2 linked regions of the Homo sapiens genome follow. The protein of the gene in region 1 binds, or shares a complex with, the protein of each later gene. Each region holds a gene or a part of one and is shown on either strand. Other genes may lie near its edges. The genes, in order: MTA3 and CDK2AP1.

The links.
Region 2: MTA3 (region 1) and CDK2AP1 share a complex: the UniProt entries of both Homo sapiens proteins name them as parts of the nucleosome remodeling and deacetylase (NuRD) repressor complex.

The regions. Positions count from the first base shown.
Region 1 is NC_000002.12:42,574,856-42,578,670, forward strand, and holds part of MTA3 (metastasis-associated protein MTA3), read left to right. Parts: intron 1-3,815. UniProt on the Homo sapiens protein: Acts as a component of the histone deacetylase NuRD complex which participates in the remodeling of chromatin.
Region 2 is NC_000012.12:123,261,720-123,265,534, reverse strand, and holds part of CDK2AP1 (cyclin-dependent kinase 2-associated protein 1), read left to right. Parts: intron 1-212; coding exon 213-339; intron 340-3,731; coding exon 3,732-3,799; 3' UTR 3,800-3,815. UniProt on the Homo sapiens protein: Inhibitor of cyclin-dependent kinase CDK2. Also acts as a component of the histone deacetylase NuRD complex which participates in the remodeling of chromatin.

The sequences.
Region 1 (3,815 bases):
AAAAAAAATTATTTAGTCTTTGAGACCACCAAGTGAAGAGAATGGCCTCAAGTGTAGATCAGTCCGTGGATGGGAACTGTTGGCATGTGATTCTGATCTTTTATGTTATTGATGTAAGGTATAAGAATTGAGGCAACTCTAAACTATTTACCATATCAGTTTAATTAGAAAGTTAATTACATCGAAATAGAAATCTTGACCTATGAGACCCTATATTCTTTGGCTGTCACTGCCCCTCTCTGACCTCCACTTTCGCTGAAAGCAGGTGGGAGCTCTGCCTTGCTTACTTGGCACAAAGCACAATGGGCTTTTGGCTGTTTCTCCCTGCAACCACCTTAGGAGGACCGTTTATTTGTGTCCGTCCTACCCCTCACCCCTTGCTCTTTTTTCCATATCATTTATCACCTCCAAATATACTTACTGTGTTTATTTTCATTACCTGTCTTCCTAGAGTGTCAGCTGCAGTGATCTTTTCTGTTTTGTCCAGTTATGCATTCTGAGTGCCTTAGAATAGTGGCTGGCACATAGTTAAAGGCATTCACTAAATACTTGTTGAATTAATTAATTTCTGAAATGTCTGATGTTAATGCTTATGTGTACATAGCTTTACTATTTACAAACTGCTTTGATTCATTCATTTTACAAATAAAATTGAGGACCTTCTACCAGCCAGGTACTTTTAGACAGTGAGAATGCAAGGGTGATAAAAAAAAAACAGGTCTAGTGGAGACAGACATCAACCATATAGTCCCACAAGTGAAAGTAAAATTGTAGCTGTGCTAAGTTTAGAAATGTCACAGCATGGTGCTCTGGAAACCTAACCCAGGATTCACGTTTGTTACCCTTTTGAGCCTCACAGAACCTTACACCTTAAGGTAGCTAAATCATGCATTGTTTTCTTGAGGCACATAGTAGCTAAATTATTGGGTTGCACATCTAGGTGAACATAGCTTATTTCACACTCCTTTATCATTTCATGGCCATTCATTTCTGAAATGCCCCCCTCATCCATCCTCACCTCCTCCCTCCGCCTACCTGTTGTCAGCACAGAGTCATCCATGTAATAGCGAGTTTCTGGGACTGGGGTTGTGTTGTGAGAGATGGGATTCTTTGTAATTTCACAAAATGGTAGTTTGAATGGCTAATTGAAATATTTACATAGGGTCTTTATTTCTGAAGGGATGTGAAAAAGACATCTTATTTTAGATAATTCATTAAGCAAATATTATTGAGTACCTGTTTTGTACCAGGCACTATGCTAGGCTCAGAGATAGAATGTGAACAAGATGTACATGGTCTCTACCCATACAGGGTCCACATTCTAATGAGGGAGACACCCGGAAAGACAAGTTGATGGGCATAAAGAAAATAGTAATAGTAATGAATTGTATTAACTTCTAAGAAGGCAAGAACCTTGACATAGAGAATGACAGGTCATTTCCTTTAGGTAGGGTGGAACAGGACATTGAAGTTGAGGCCTAAAGGATGAGGAAGAGGGAACCATGGGAAGAGAGGACGCAGGAGTGTTCTAGATAAAGGCCCTGGGAAGATCAGAGGTGAAATTGGCTAGGTAGGGAAAGTTGTTAACATGATGGGAAAATCCAAATAATGATTTAAAAATACTTGAAGACAGGCATGGTGGCTCAGGCCTGTAGTCCCAGCTGCTCGAGAGGCTGAGGCAGGAGGATTGCTTGAGCCTGGGGGTTTGAGACCAGCCTGTGCAACATAATAAGACCCCCCATCTCTGAAAAAAACCAAAACAAGGCCAGATATGGTGGCTCACGCCTGTAATCCCAGGACTTCGGGAGGCCGAGGTGGGTGGATCACCTGAGAGGAGTCTGAGACTAGCCTGGCCAATGTGGTGAAACCCTGTCTCTACTAAAAGTGCAAAATTAGCCGGGCATGGTGGCGCATGCCTGTAATCCCAGCTACTCGGGAGGCTGAGGCAGGAGAATCGCTTGAACCCATGAGGCGGAAGTTGCAGTGAGCTGAGATCGTGCCATTGCACTCCAGCCTGGGCAACAGTGAAACTCCATCTCAACAAACAAACAAAAAAACCAAAACAAAACCACCTCTAAACTGAAAATACTTACTTTGTTCTGATAGATAAGCTAGGGAAAAAAGGCTACTTGGGAGGCTGAGGCAGGAGGATCGCTTGAACCAGGGAGTTGGAGGTTGCAGTGAGCCGAGATTGTGCCACTGCACTCAAGCCTGGCAACAGAATGGTACTCCATCTAAAAAAAAAAAAAAATATATATATATATATATATATATATATAAAAATGAACTCTTAATTGCTGTAATGCACTTAGTCTCAAACCCTGTACTCATTTCATTAAATGCCATTAACAGTTGCAGACTGGCACTGGGCTGTAGACCCATGAGTAACCATGCTTCAGAAGAATGCTGGAGAGGGTGTGTTTGTAGAGGGGAAGAGGAATATGGTAGCTGTAAGCTACCTAGTAGCTAAGTGAGTGCATGGTCAAGAAGAGACTATTTATTTTGAACTATGCTCCCCGCCCCCTAAGCAGGTTTAAATAAGAATTTAATTAGCTTTGTATAGCATCCCTATTGGAGGAACTCACTAGTGAGGCAGAAAAAAATATGCCTTGAAACTGTTGATTTGGATTTTTTTTTTTTTTTGAGACGGATTGTCACTGTGTCACCCAGGCTGGAGTGCAGTGGTGTGGTCTTGGCTCACTGCAACCTCCACCTCCCAGGTTCAAGCGATTCTCCTGCCTCAGCCTCCCGAGTAGCTGGGACTACAGGTGTGTGCCACCACACCCAGCTAATTTTTGTATTTTTGGTAGAGATGGGGTTTTACTATGTTGGCCAGGCTGGTCTAGAACTCCTGACCTCGTGATCTGCCCACCTTGGACTCCCAAAGTGTTGGGATTACAGGTGTGAGCCACCGCACCCGGCCTGGATTTTTAATGTCTCAAGAAGAGACAAAAATCACATTGAAAATCCAAAGCAGCAGTTTCAAGGCATATCTCAAGAAGACAGAAATGACTAAGAGCTTATATTTGAAGTCATTGATAGATTTTATTTTATTTACATGGAAATTTTGGCCTGTTCATTTAGCAGATTGCTGGATCATTACTTCTGGAGAATGTATTTGATCACAATATTATGAAATATAGAAGCACTTTGGTTAGAAATTTAATATGATTTCAGTTTTAAGGGGCACTGTTTCCACAGGACTATTTCTTAATCTAAAATACGGCTGCTGGACTTCATAAAATTGACAAATTTACTGCAGCACTTATATTCTTCTTTGTATTTGAGTATATCTGTAAGACCAGAGAAATTTCTGAAAATTTGTTCTCACACTTGTTTGAAAATGGAAATCACAATAGCATTTTATTATAATCTGTGTGTTTTTACAGGGAACTTTGTAATGAATGATTGACCTTCTTGAGAGCTCTCAGAATTCTAGAGAATAGGAGAGCAGGAGCCTGGGCCCCAGCTGCAGTAAATGACAGCATAACTGAATTTTTTTTTGAAGCCATCATACTTTGGAAGAACCTAACTGAATATTGTTTGCATTGTAGATTGTAGCCAAAAAGAAATGAGAGTTTCAGTGTTCATAACTCAAGGTTTTTAATATTTTTAGATGTGAAGGTAAACTAAGTACTGCTTAGAATATTGACTCTTAGAGATTCATAGACTTCCTTGGTGTAGAGAATGCTTTTCCAGGTCACCTGGTCTATTCTGCATGATGGCTGCTTCCCACCTGCAGAGCTTCACTGTCCATGGAACATGGGATACTTAGGGGAGGGCTTGGTGATTTTACACTTAGCTAGTGCTTTCTG
Region 2 (3,815 bases), on another chromosome or scaffold:
GGCTGCTGAACCCTTTTTTTTTTTTTTCCCCCGAGATGGAGTCTCGCTCTGTTGCCCAGGCTGGAGTGCAGTGGAGTGATCTTGGCTCACTGCAACTTCCACCTCCTGGGTCCAAGCAGTTCTCCTGCCTCAGCCTCCTGAGTAACTGGGACTACAGGCACGCACCACCACGCCCGGCTGATTTTGCTGAACCCATTTCTTTCTGATTCTAGGGAACTGGGAACAGCCAGGTGCCCCAAAGCAAATACGCGGAGCTGCTGGCCATCATTGAAGAGCTGGGGAAGGAGATCAGACCCACGTACGCAGGGAGCAAGAGTGCCATGGAGAGGCTGAAGCGCGGTAAGCCCGGCCCCGCTGCCCTGTCGGTGACCACAGTGCTAGACCTTTAACTCTGGAAAGACTTTTGGGGAAAATGTGGGAAGGTGGGCTAGGGATGAGGCTCACTCATGGGAGCTCCTGTCTTGTTACAGAGTTGCCGTCTGTGGTGGAGGCCTCAGGCAGGCGATGGGTCTGGTAGCGAGGGGCCTGGGGGGCTGGATGTCTTCAGAGGGGTCTTCTGGGAAGGGCAGCCCAGGCAGGGAGCCCTTCTTACCCTGTGTGCTGCCAGGGGGTCTGCTGGCTTTCAAGGGTGTGTTCGAAGTGCCCCCTGCCCCCGACCCTGCCTGGTCTGCTCCTGTGGGCCGACACTGGTCCTAGGGAAGCCAAGCTCAGGGTTCATCGGTGCCTGCACTGCCCTCTGCTGTCACCTCTTTGGAGGGAGACCCAAGGAAGTGTGTGGGTCTGTGCTAGGGTCTGGGGAGGGAGGCTGAGAGCACTTTGTTCTTTAATGGTTGGAGAGGGAGGGCAGGCAGGAGATGACAGAGCACAAGGGACTCGTGTTAAGGTGTGACTGTCCGTCTGATTTCGAAAGGACGTTAAATAGGTTGCTACCTTCTGAAATAAAAGGGGAGTGGAGGTAGGACAGGATTTCTATTTTAGAAGGCGACAGTGCAGCAGAGCCATAGCCCATGAACGCATTCAAGATGAGGGGAGACTTGGGGCTCTTTTTTTTTTTTTTTTTTTTTTTTTTTTTGGGAGACGGAGTTTTACTCTTGTTGCCCAGGCTGGAGTGCAGTGGTGCAATCTCGGCTCACCGCAACCTCCGCCTCCTGGGTTCAAGCGATTCTCCTGCCTCAGCCTCCCAAGTAGCTGGGATTACAGGCATGTGCCACCACACCTGTCTAATTTTTTGTATTTTTAGTAGAGACAGGGTTTCTCCAAGTTGGTCAGCCTGGTCTTGAACTCCCAACCTCAGGTGATCCACCTGCCTTGGCCTCCCAAAGTGCTGGCATTACAGGCGTGAGCCACCACGCCCGGCCTGGGACTTGGGGTTCTTAAAAAGGCTGGAGAAGCAACCTGGGAGAGGAACATTCTTTTTTTTTTTTTTGAGATGGAGTCTAGCTCTGTCACCTGGGCTGGAGTGCAGTGGCACGATCTCGGCCCACTGCAACCTCCGCCTCCCGGGTTCAAACAATTTTCCTGCCTCAAGCCTCCCGAGTAGTTGGGACTACAGGCGTGCGCCACTATACCCAGCTAATTTTTGTATTTTTAGTAGAGACCAGGTTTCGCCATGTTGGTTGGCCAGGATGGTTTCGATTTCTTGACCTTGTGATCCTCCCGCCTTGGCCTCCCAAAGTGCTGGGATTACAGGCGTTGAGCCACCGTGCCCGGCCTGGGAGAGGAACTTTCTTTGGTTGTAAATCTGTAGCATAAATGGGGGCTGTAGTTGAAGTTATGCCCCAGTGACACGAGGGCCAGTTGAGGACAGGCTGCTGCCAGGAGCGGGGTTGCTCTGGAGTTTATGAAACCTTTGTGAAGAGGTTGACGGGTCTCAAAGCTAGGTTGGGACTACCAGGGTTAGAGGATGTGATTGAAGAGGGCCTGGGGGAAGGGATGCAGAGCCCAACCCTGGTCTCGCCTGGAGAGTTGGGTGGTCCCAGGGCTGCTCTCCGGTAGCTGGGGTGCTGCTTACCTGAATGGAAATTCCTGGGAAGATGCTGGGTCCCAGAGTCCAACAGGTAATTTGCAGTCACCCAGAAAAGGCACTGGTTCAAGTCAGCAAATGCGTACAAACTGCCAGTCTTTTAGTAACAAGGAAGACCTAGTGCTACCCCTTGGCCAACAGCCAAGCCCAAGCTTACCAAGCTCATGTCACAGCAGGGTGAAAACACGTCATAGAGGGGTCAGGGAGTTAGGAGCTAGGAGCATTGTAGGTAGGTTGGCAACTACAGCCCAAGAGCCAGGAGCCAAGAATAGTGGTTTTTTTTTGTTTTTTTTTTTTTTTTGAGACAGAGTCTCGCTCTATCACCCAGGCTGGAGTGCAGTGGCGCGATCTCGGCTCACTGCAACCTCCGCCTCCCGGGTTCAAGCAGTTCTGCCTCAGCCTCCCGAGTAGCTGGGATTATAGGCGCCCACCACCACGCCCATCTAATTTTTGTATTTTTAGTAGAGATGGGGTTGTACCATGTTGGCCAGGCTGGTCTCAAACTCCTGACCTCAAGTGGGCAACCCGCCCCGGCCTCCGAAAGTGCTGGGATTACAGGTGTGAGCCACCGCGACAGGCATGGTTCTTAATGGTTGAAAAAAAAAATGATTTTGGGACGTGTGAAAGTTATCTGAAATTCAGACTTAAGTGTTCATAAATAAAGGTTTGTGGGTCCAGGTGTGATGGTGCATGCCTGTAATCCAGCAGTTTGGGAGGCTAAAGCCAGGAGCAACATAGTGAAACTCCCATCTCTACAAATAATGATAAAACAGCCAGGCATGGTGGTGCGTGCCTATAGTCCCAGCTTCTCCGGAGGCTGAGGTGGGAGGATCACCTGATCCTGGCAGGTTGAGGCTGCAGTGAGCTGTGATCGTGCCACTGCACTCCAGCCTGGGTGACAGGGCAAGATGCTGTCTCAAAAAAAATTTGAGTGAAGTAGTTGTGTCAGAGACTGTAGCCTGCAAAGCTCAAAATATTTGCTGTCTGGTCCTCACAGAAAACATTCTCCAAGGCTCTGAGTTAGTTTCTAAGATTTGTGAGGTGATGATGTGGGATGTCATTCCCAGTGGCCTCTGGGAGTCATGTATTAGAAGGAATAGAATCCTTAGTGTCTATTAAAAGATCATATTTCATGAAGTTCAGTAGAGGCAGAAAGAAAAAAAAGGTAAGCACCAAACCACAGAGACAAAAGACTGGGGAAGATTCATCGGGCAGAAGGTAGCTGCAGTCTTGTGGGGTTGTCCCCGTGGACCCAGGGTCCCGCGTGGGTAGTAGTCAGTTCTCTGCGCCCTCACGTGTGCAGCTGAAGCCATTCTCTTGCTTACTTACGCCGGTCAAGCCCTGTCTAGAATTCAGACTGAAGAAGCCAGAGAAAAATCTCCATAGTGGGTCAAGCAAAAGAATTTGGGTGGAGACATGTCTTTCATCCAACAGTGTCGTGGAAGGACAGCTTGCTGGTGCACCTTGAATGCAGGAAAAAATGTTTAGAGAGACAGGAAGAGTTGTGGTGAGGAGGGAAGGGCTTTAGAGAGGGATGGGATTGTTAGCGTCCTTCAGGGTTGCTTGGTTATAGGTTTCCCTGGTTCTCTTTATGTCTGAGGGTTTTGTGGACAGGCTGTGGAAGGATGGATCCTCTTGCTGTTTCAGAATGGGCTTTGCTGGCTGGTCCTGTGCACTTGCTGACCTCAGGTCTCTGCCTCTGTTTCAGGCATCATTCACGCTAGAGGACTGGTTCGGGAGTGCTTGGCAGAAACGGAACGGAATGCCAGATCCTAGCTGCCTTGTTGGTTTT